Linked DNA regions of Homo sapiens. The protein of the gene in region 1 interacts with the protein of each later gene in a pairwise test. Each region holds a gene or a part of one and is shown on either strand. Other genes may lie near its edges. The genes, in order: ACVRL1 and PEG10.

Region 1 (3,919 bases):
GGGACTGCGACAGGTAGAGAGACCTGCCCTGGGCAGGCAGCCCTGAGGTCGATGTTCTCTCAGCCCTGGAGTGGACGGAGGATAGGTGGGTCGTCTAGACTGGTGGGAGCATTGTCAACCTTTGAGGAGGCTGTCCATGGTGAGGGACTTCCAGGAGTCGTGACAGGTTGGGGACAATCCTCAGGATATGGCTGGAGCCCTGCTTCTTGGGGACAAGGATGTCCTCATTTCCTGAGCATCTACCAGGAGCCAGCCCCATGCCAGACTTCATTTGTCCTCGGTGGTCATCAACTGAAAACAGAGGCTGTGGTGTCACCGGTCCCTTGGGGAGACTCACGAGGTGCTTAGATTCCTCAAGACTCCGGGCATGAATTGCCAGAGTGGGCTCTAAGGAGACCGGGATCGGGGGAAAGAGGAACCTGGAAGAAGCCAAGGCTCCTTGGACCAGGCTGCAGGGCAGAAAGGAAAGGCTGGGAGGAGGCTGCCTGGGGTGGAGGGGGAAGCTCCATCAGCCCCACACGGACTCGCGGCGCATTATAAACACTGTAATCTGGTGTCAGCCCCGGCACTGATTAAAGGCCCATTAGACACATTCAGGCCTCTGTGCAGCACTGATTAGGGCGTGAGCGGCACAGGGGCCGGCCTGGAAGCTGGCCATGGGGAGAACAGCTGGCGAAGGCTCTATCGAGGTTGCGGCCTGTGTGGCCATGGCCCCCAGCCTCAGGCTGGGAAACAGGATGGGGCACGGGGCTGTCTGCGGCTCCACCGGCATTGTTTTCAGAAAGCTCCTACTAAAAACTGTGAACTTGGGATACCAAGAGGAGGGGGTCAGTGCTGGCTGCAGGAGTCAGCAGAGGCCTGTGCCATCCCTGACACTGGGTGATGTTATGTGGACCTGGGTAAAAAGATAAGTGCAGCTCAGAGGTCAAGAGCACATGCTTTGGTGTTAGACTGTGGGCTTAAATCCTAGCCCTGTCACTTACTATCTGTTGATCTTAGACAAGTTTCTTAAACTCTCTGGCCTTCATTTCTTGGCTTATAAAGTGGAGCTCATAGTATTACCTACCTCATAGGGCTGCTGTGAGGATTTCATGCAGAGCTCTTAGGACAGCACCTGGCATACAGTGCTCAGTAAACATTTGGTGTTATTATTATCAGGCATGTGTGATAGTTGGGGCCTGGGAGCAGTCCCGGGCACTGGGTGGAAGGCAGCTGAGGGAAGACTGGAACAAGGCTGGCCTAGGAATCCGAGATGGGTTTGAGTCTTGCCTCTGCCATTACTAGCTGTGGAACCTTGGGCCCCCCTTCTCTGAGCATCAGTTTCTTCATCTGTAAAATGGAGGTAATACTAGTACCCACCCCACAGGGCTGTTGTGAGGACAAACAGGATAAAGCATGTAAAGTGTTTACAGCAGAATATCTGGCACATGCCATGTGCAAAACAAATGGCAGTCATTAACATTAGTTAGAAACACATTTATTGCATTATACTGTCCCTCTCAGGGGTAGCGTGTCCAGGCCACTGGTTTCTGGCCCTTGGATAGAGGGTAGAAAAGGCTCTCCTCTGGGTGGTATTGGGCCTCCTTAGAGTCCCAAGTGATTGTCCTGTCCATTCTCCATTTCCAGGCATCGTGGAGGACTATAGACCACCCTTCTATGATGTGGTGCCCAATGACCCCAGCTTTGAGGACATGAAGAAGGTGGTGTGTGTGGATCAGCAGACCCCCACCATCCCTAACCGGCTGGCTGCAGACCCGGTGAGGCCTCTGCTGGGACTAGGATGGCGTGGGGTGGTGGCTCATGGCTGGGATTTCTGGGCCCAGGAACTTGTGTCTGAGGCCTCTGCTTCATCTCATAGATACTGAGTGTCCTGGTTAGGGCACCTCTCTAGGTACTCCCTCTTTCAACCCTGGCCCATGCTCCCTGCCCCCAGGGCCATCTGGTCATTCTGGGATTTTAAGAACCTTCACCTTCCCTGTGAAAAGTCAGAGGCTATCTGTGGCTCTGTGTGTGTGTGTGTGTGTGTGTGTGTGTGTGTGTGTGTGTTTGAGAGTCAGGGTTTTGTTTGCTCTTGTCACCCAGGCTGGGGTGCAGTGGCACAGTCATAGCTCACTGTAACCTCAAACTCCTCGGCTCAACTGATCCTACTGCCTCAGCCTCCCCAGTAGCTAGGTGTAGTGCACACCACCACACCTGGCTAATTTTTAAAATTTTTTGTAGAGACAAGGTCTTTTATGTTGCTCAGGCTTATCTCAAACTCTTGGGCTCAAGTGATCCTCCTGCCTCAGCCTCCCAAAGTGTTGGGATTATAGGTGTGAGCCTCCACACCTGACCACTGTGGTATTTTTGTTGCTATTTGTCTTTGTTTGTTGCTGTTTTGTTGTTGTTTGTCCTTGTTTTTTCTCAAAACACTTCACTTGTACAAAGACACACACACGTATATCAACACATACAAGCGTGAATATCCTTCTGAACATACACTCACAGAAATATACACATGCGCATATATGCCAGACTGTTGGCCCCGTGAGGACAAAGAACGTGTCTTTTGCTCACCCTTATGTCCCTATTACCTATCATAGTATCTGGCTCACAATAGGTGCTAATAAATATTTACTGAAAGAATGAATATATTCTATACATGTATACATCTATGTGTACATAGACATACATTTCTGTACAACATATCCGCAAAAAGCCACATGTATGCATTCCTGTACACACACACATACACTCACTTTCAGGAGCCAGAAGTGGGGCCAGCTCATTTCAGGCCCTGGGATGGGTTGATGAGCTTCCTGGGATGGGTTGATGAGCTTTTTGGGATGGGTTGCTCCCTGGACACTTGCATTTTTAGGGCAGTTCCCACTTCCACAGTCCCCTGGGCCCAGCCATGGCTGATGGAGGGGCTGGAAGACACTGCCCTCTGCACTGGGGTCTTAGGCTGTGGATGGGGATGTGGGAGCCCCCAGGCTTGAAGAATCGGCCCCTTCCTATGGATCTTGGCAAAGGTGGGGATGGGGGTAAGGTGTTTCACAGACACTGCTTGCCCAAGGGGGCTTGAGTGCTCCTGAAGATCTGAGTTCTCTCTTTCTGTCCGCCCTGTCTTTCTCCATCCCTTTCTCACTCTACTCTCTTCCTCTTCCATTTTTTATTTTTTTGTCATCCTCTGTTCTCTCTCTCACCACTTGTCTTTCCTCTCGCTCTCCTTTCCAATGCTCTCATCTCCCTCCTCTCATCCTTTCTCTCCTGCTTATGTCTCCCCATTACCGGCCATCCTCCTCATCTTCTTCCCATCTTCTCTGACCCACCTCCCTCTGCATCTCTCTCCCGACCCCCTCCTCTTCTCTGCATCTCTCTCTCTGCCTCCTCTCCTCTGCACCTCTCTCCCAACCCCCAGGTCCTCTCAGGCCTAGCTCAGATGATGCGGGAGTGCTGGTACCCAAACCCCTCTGCCCGACTCACCGCGCTGCGGATCAAGAAGACACTACAAAAAATTAGCAACAGTCCAGAGAAGCCTAAAGTGATTCAATAGCCCAGGAGCACCTGATTCCTTTCTGCCTGCAGGGGGCTGGGGGGGTGGGGGGCAGTGGATGGTGCCCTATCTGGGTAGAGGTAGTGTGAGTGTGGTGTGTGCTGGGGATGGGCAGCTGCGCCTGCCTGCTCGGCCCCCAGCCCACCCAGCCAAAAATACAGCTGGGCTGAAACCTGATCCCCTGCTGTCTGGCCTGCTCAAAGCGGCAGGCTCCCTGACGCCTGGCTCTCTCCCCACCCCTATGGCCAGCATGGTGCACCCCCTACCACTCCCGGGACAGGATGCAAAAGAGGCTCCAGAGTCAGAGTGCCAAGCCAGGGAATCCCAGTCCCAGACTCAGAGCCCGGGCCTGCACTTTGCCCCCTGCCCTTGATCAACCCCACT
Region 2 (3,919 bases), on another chromosome or scaffold:
TTATGGAGGGGGAGACGAGGAGGAGGAGGACATGACTTTTCTTGCGGTTTCGGTACCCTCTTTTTAAATCACTGGAGGACTGAGGCCTTATTAAGGAAGCCAAAATTATCGGTGCAGTGTGGAAAGGCTTCCGTGATCCTCTCGCTGCACCCTTAGAAACTTCACCGTCTTCAAACTCCATTTCCATGGTTCTGTTAATTCTCAAGGAGCAGCAACTCGACTGGTTCTCCCAGGAGCAGGAAAAACCCTTGTGACATGAAACATCTCAGGCCTGAAAAGAAAGTGCTCTCTCAGATGGACTCTTGCATGTTAAGACTATGTCTTCACATCATGGTGCAAATCACATGTACCCAATGACTCCGGCTTTGACACAACACCTTACCATCATCATGCCATGATGGCTTCCACAAAGCATTAAACCTGGTAACCAGAGATTACTGGTGGCTCCAGCGTTGTTAGATGTTCATGAAATGTGACCACCTCTCAATCACCTTTGAGGGCTAAAGAGTAGCACATCAAAAGGACTCCAAAATCCCATACCCAACTCTTAAGAGATTTGTCCTGGTACTTCAGAAAGAATTTTCATGAGTGTTCTTAATTGGCTGGAAAAGCACCAGCTGACGTTTTGGAAGAATCTATCCATGTGTCTGCCTCCATATGCATCTGGGCATTTCATCTTCAGTCCCCTCATTAGACTGTAGCATTAGGATGTGTGGAGAGAGGAGAAATGATTTAGCACCCAGATTCACACTCCTATGCCTGGAAGGGGGACATCTTTGAAGAAGAGGAATTAGGGCTGTGGACACTGTCTTGAGGATGTGGACTTCCTTAGTGAGCTCCACATTACTTGATGGTAACCACTTCAAAAGGATCAGAATCCACGTAATGAAAAAGGTCCCTCTAGAGGATGGAGCTGATGTGAAGCTGCCAATGGATGAAAAGCCTCAGAAAGCAACTCAAAGGACTCAAAGCAACGGACAACACAAGAGTTGTCTTCAGCCCAGTGACACCTCTGATGTCCCCTGGAAGCTTTGTGCTAACCTGGGACTGCCTGACTTCCTTTAGCCTGGTCCCTTGCTACTACCTTGAACTGTTTTATCTAACCTCTCTTTTTCTGTTTAATTCTTTGCTACTGCCATTGACCCTGCTGCAGGATTTGTGTCATTTTCCTGCCTGGTTGCTGAGACTCCATTTTGCTGCCACACACAGAGATGTAAGAGGCAGGCTTTAATTGCCAAAGCACAGTTTGAGCAGTAGAAAACAACATGGTGTATATCTCAAATTGCCTGACATGAAGAGGAGTCTAACGGTGAAGTTTCACTTTTCATCAGCATCATCTTTCACATGTTCATTATCATCTGCTCTTATTCTTGCATGTTTAAACACTTAAAATTTTTAGTATAATTTTTAGTGTGTTTTGAAGTGGTGACTAGGCTTTCAAAAACTTCCATTGAATTACAAAGCACTATCCAGTTCTTATTGTTAAACTAAGTAAAAATGATAAGTAACATAGTGTAAAATATTCCTTTACTGTGAACTTCTTACAATGCTGTGAATGAGAGGCTCCTCAGAACTGGAGCATTTGTATAATAATTCATCCTGTTCATCTTCAATTTTAACATCATATATAATTTCAATTCTATCAATTGGGCCTTTAAAAATCATATAAAAGGATATAAAATTTGAAAAGAGAAACCTAATTGGCTATTTAATCCAAAACAACTTTTTTTTTCCTTCAATGGAATCAGAAAGCTTGTCAATCACTCATGTGTTTTAGAGTAATTACTTTTAAAATGGTGCATTTGTGCTTCTGAACTATTTTGAAGAGTCACTTCTGTTTACCTCAAGTATCAATTCATCCTCCATACATTTGAATTCAAGTTGTTTTTTTGTCAAATTTACAGTTGTCAATTGATCTTCAAGCTGCAGGGTGCCTAGAAATGGGCCGTTGTCTGTAGCCCTGGCATGTGCACACGGACATTTGCCACCACTGCAAGCAAAAGTCTGGAGAAGTTCACCAACGACAAGAACGATTAGGGAAAATATGCTGCTGTGGGTTAACAACTCAGAAAGTCCCTGATCCACATTTGGCTGTTTACTAAAGCTTGTGATTAACTTTTTGGCAGTGTGTACTATGCTCTATTGCTATATATGCTATCTATAAATGTAGATGTTAAGGATAAGTAATTCTAAATTTATTATTCTATAGTTTTGAAGTTTGGTTAAGTTTCCTTTCACTCAATTGATTTATTTTGTTGTTAATCAAATTTATGTTAATTGGATCCTTTAAATTTTTTTTGGCATTTTCCAACAAAAATGGCTTTATTCATAAGAAAGGAAAAAAATCAATGGAATTTGATATCTAAAGAAGTTAGAAAGGGAGCAAAATAAAAAACATAAAGGAGATAGATGAATTAGTAAGCAAATCAGTAGTCGAGTTTTTCAAACTGGCAAAATTAATTAATTGACTTTTAGCCCAAATTTACATTGTTAATTAAATCAAGAAGGAAGAAGATCTAAGAGCTCCCATTGATAGGCAAGCCTAGAGAGAACTAGCTAAATTTATCATGCTAGGATATTGAAACACAGAAAGTTTACATACATTTATGAAGGGTCAATTTAGTTTGGACAGTGAGGTATTTGTCTTAGTGGAAAAAAGGAGAATTAGTCTGATCAAATCGTGAAGTAATACAGTGAACTTGCAGGTGCACAAAATAAGAGGGCCACATCTATATGGTGCAGTCTGGAATTCTGTTTAAGTTTGTAGGTACCTCTTGGACTTCTGAATTGATCCAGTTGTCATCCACCACAGACATCTCACATCAGATACAGACAGTTCCAAGATTGACAACAGAGAACAACCTGCTGGAAAGACCTGGGCAGAAATGGAGAGCCCTGCGGGAACCATGCTACATTTTCATCTAAAGAGAGAATGCACATCTGATGAGACTGAAAGTTCTTTGTTGTTTTAGATTGTAGAATGGTATTGAATTGGTCTGTGGAAAATTGCATTGCTTTTATTTCTTTGTGTAATCAAGTTTAAGTAATAGGGGATATATAATCATAAGCATTTTAGGGTGGGAGGGACTATTAAGTAATTTTAAGTGGGTGGGGTTATTTAGAATGTTAGAATAATATTATGTATTAGATATCGCTATAAGTGGACATGCGTACTTACTTGTAACCCTTTACCCTATAATTGCTATCCTTAAAGATTTCAAATAAACTCGGAGGGAACTGCAGGGAGACCAACTTATTTAGAGCGAATTGGACATGGATAAAAACCCCAGTGGGAGAAAGTTCAAAGGTGATTAGATTAATAATTTAATAGAGGATGAGTGACCTCTGATAAATTACTGCTAGAATGAACTTGTCAATGATGGATGGTAAATTTTCATGGAAGTTATAAAAGTGATAAATAAAAACCCTTGCTTTTACCCCTGTCAGTAGCCCTCCTCCTACCACTGAACCCCATTGCCCCTACCCCTCCTTCTAACTTTATTGCTGTATTCTCTTCACTCTATATTTCTCTCTATTTGCTAATATTGCATTGCTGTTACAATAAAAATTCAATAAAGATTTAGTGGTTAAGTGCAAACTGTGTCCTGATCATTTCAGCATCTACCAGCATCAAGGGAATGGGGTGGGGTAGGGTGGGGAAGGCTGAGAGAGTAGGGAGAGTGGGAGAGGCTAGAGTAGGGTGGGGCTGTGGGGAGGGTGGGATTGTTGGAAGGGTAGGGAGGTAGGAGGGTGGGTAGGGTAGGGGTGGAATTGAGTTTGGGATAGTGGGGTGGTGGTATAAAGAACATTATTGATTACAACCTAGTATGAATTATATAGCCAGAATACTCCAGGAAATCAGTTATTCCAGCTGCAAAAGTTTAACATATAAAATAAAGATACACAATTAATAGCAACT

The links.
Region 2: the proteins of ACVRL1 (region 1) and PEG10 interact in a two-hybrid assay, tested with the Homo sapiens proteins (one study listed by BioGRID).

Annotation. Positions count from the first base shown.
Region 1 is NC_000012.12:51,917,359-51,921,277, forward strand, and holds part of ACVRL1 (activin receptor type-1-like isoform 1 precursor), read left to right. Parts: intron 1-184; coding exon of another isoform or gene 185-340; intron 341-1,626; coding exon 1,627-1,757; coding exon of another isoform or gene 1,758-1,865; exon of another isoform or gene 1,866-2,629; intron 2,630-3,400; coding exon 3,401-3,535; 3' UTR 3,536-3,919. UniProt on the Homo sapiens protein: Type I receptor for TGF-beta family ligands BMP9/GDF2 and BMP10 and important regulator of normal blood vessel development. On ligand binding, forms a receptor complex consisting of two type II and two type I transmembrane serine/threonine kinases.
Region 2 is NC_000007.14:94,666,098-94,670,016, forward strand, and holds the end of PEG10 (retrotransposon-derived protein PEG10), read left to right. Parts: 3' UTR 1-3,598; downstream 3,599-3,919.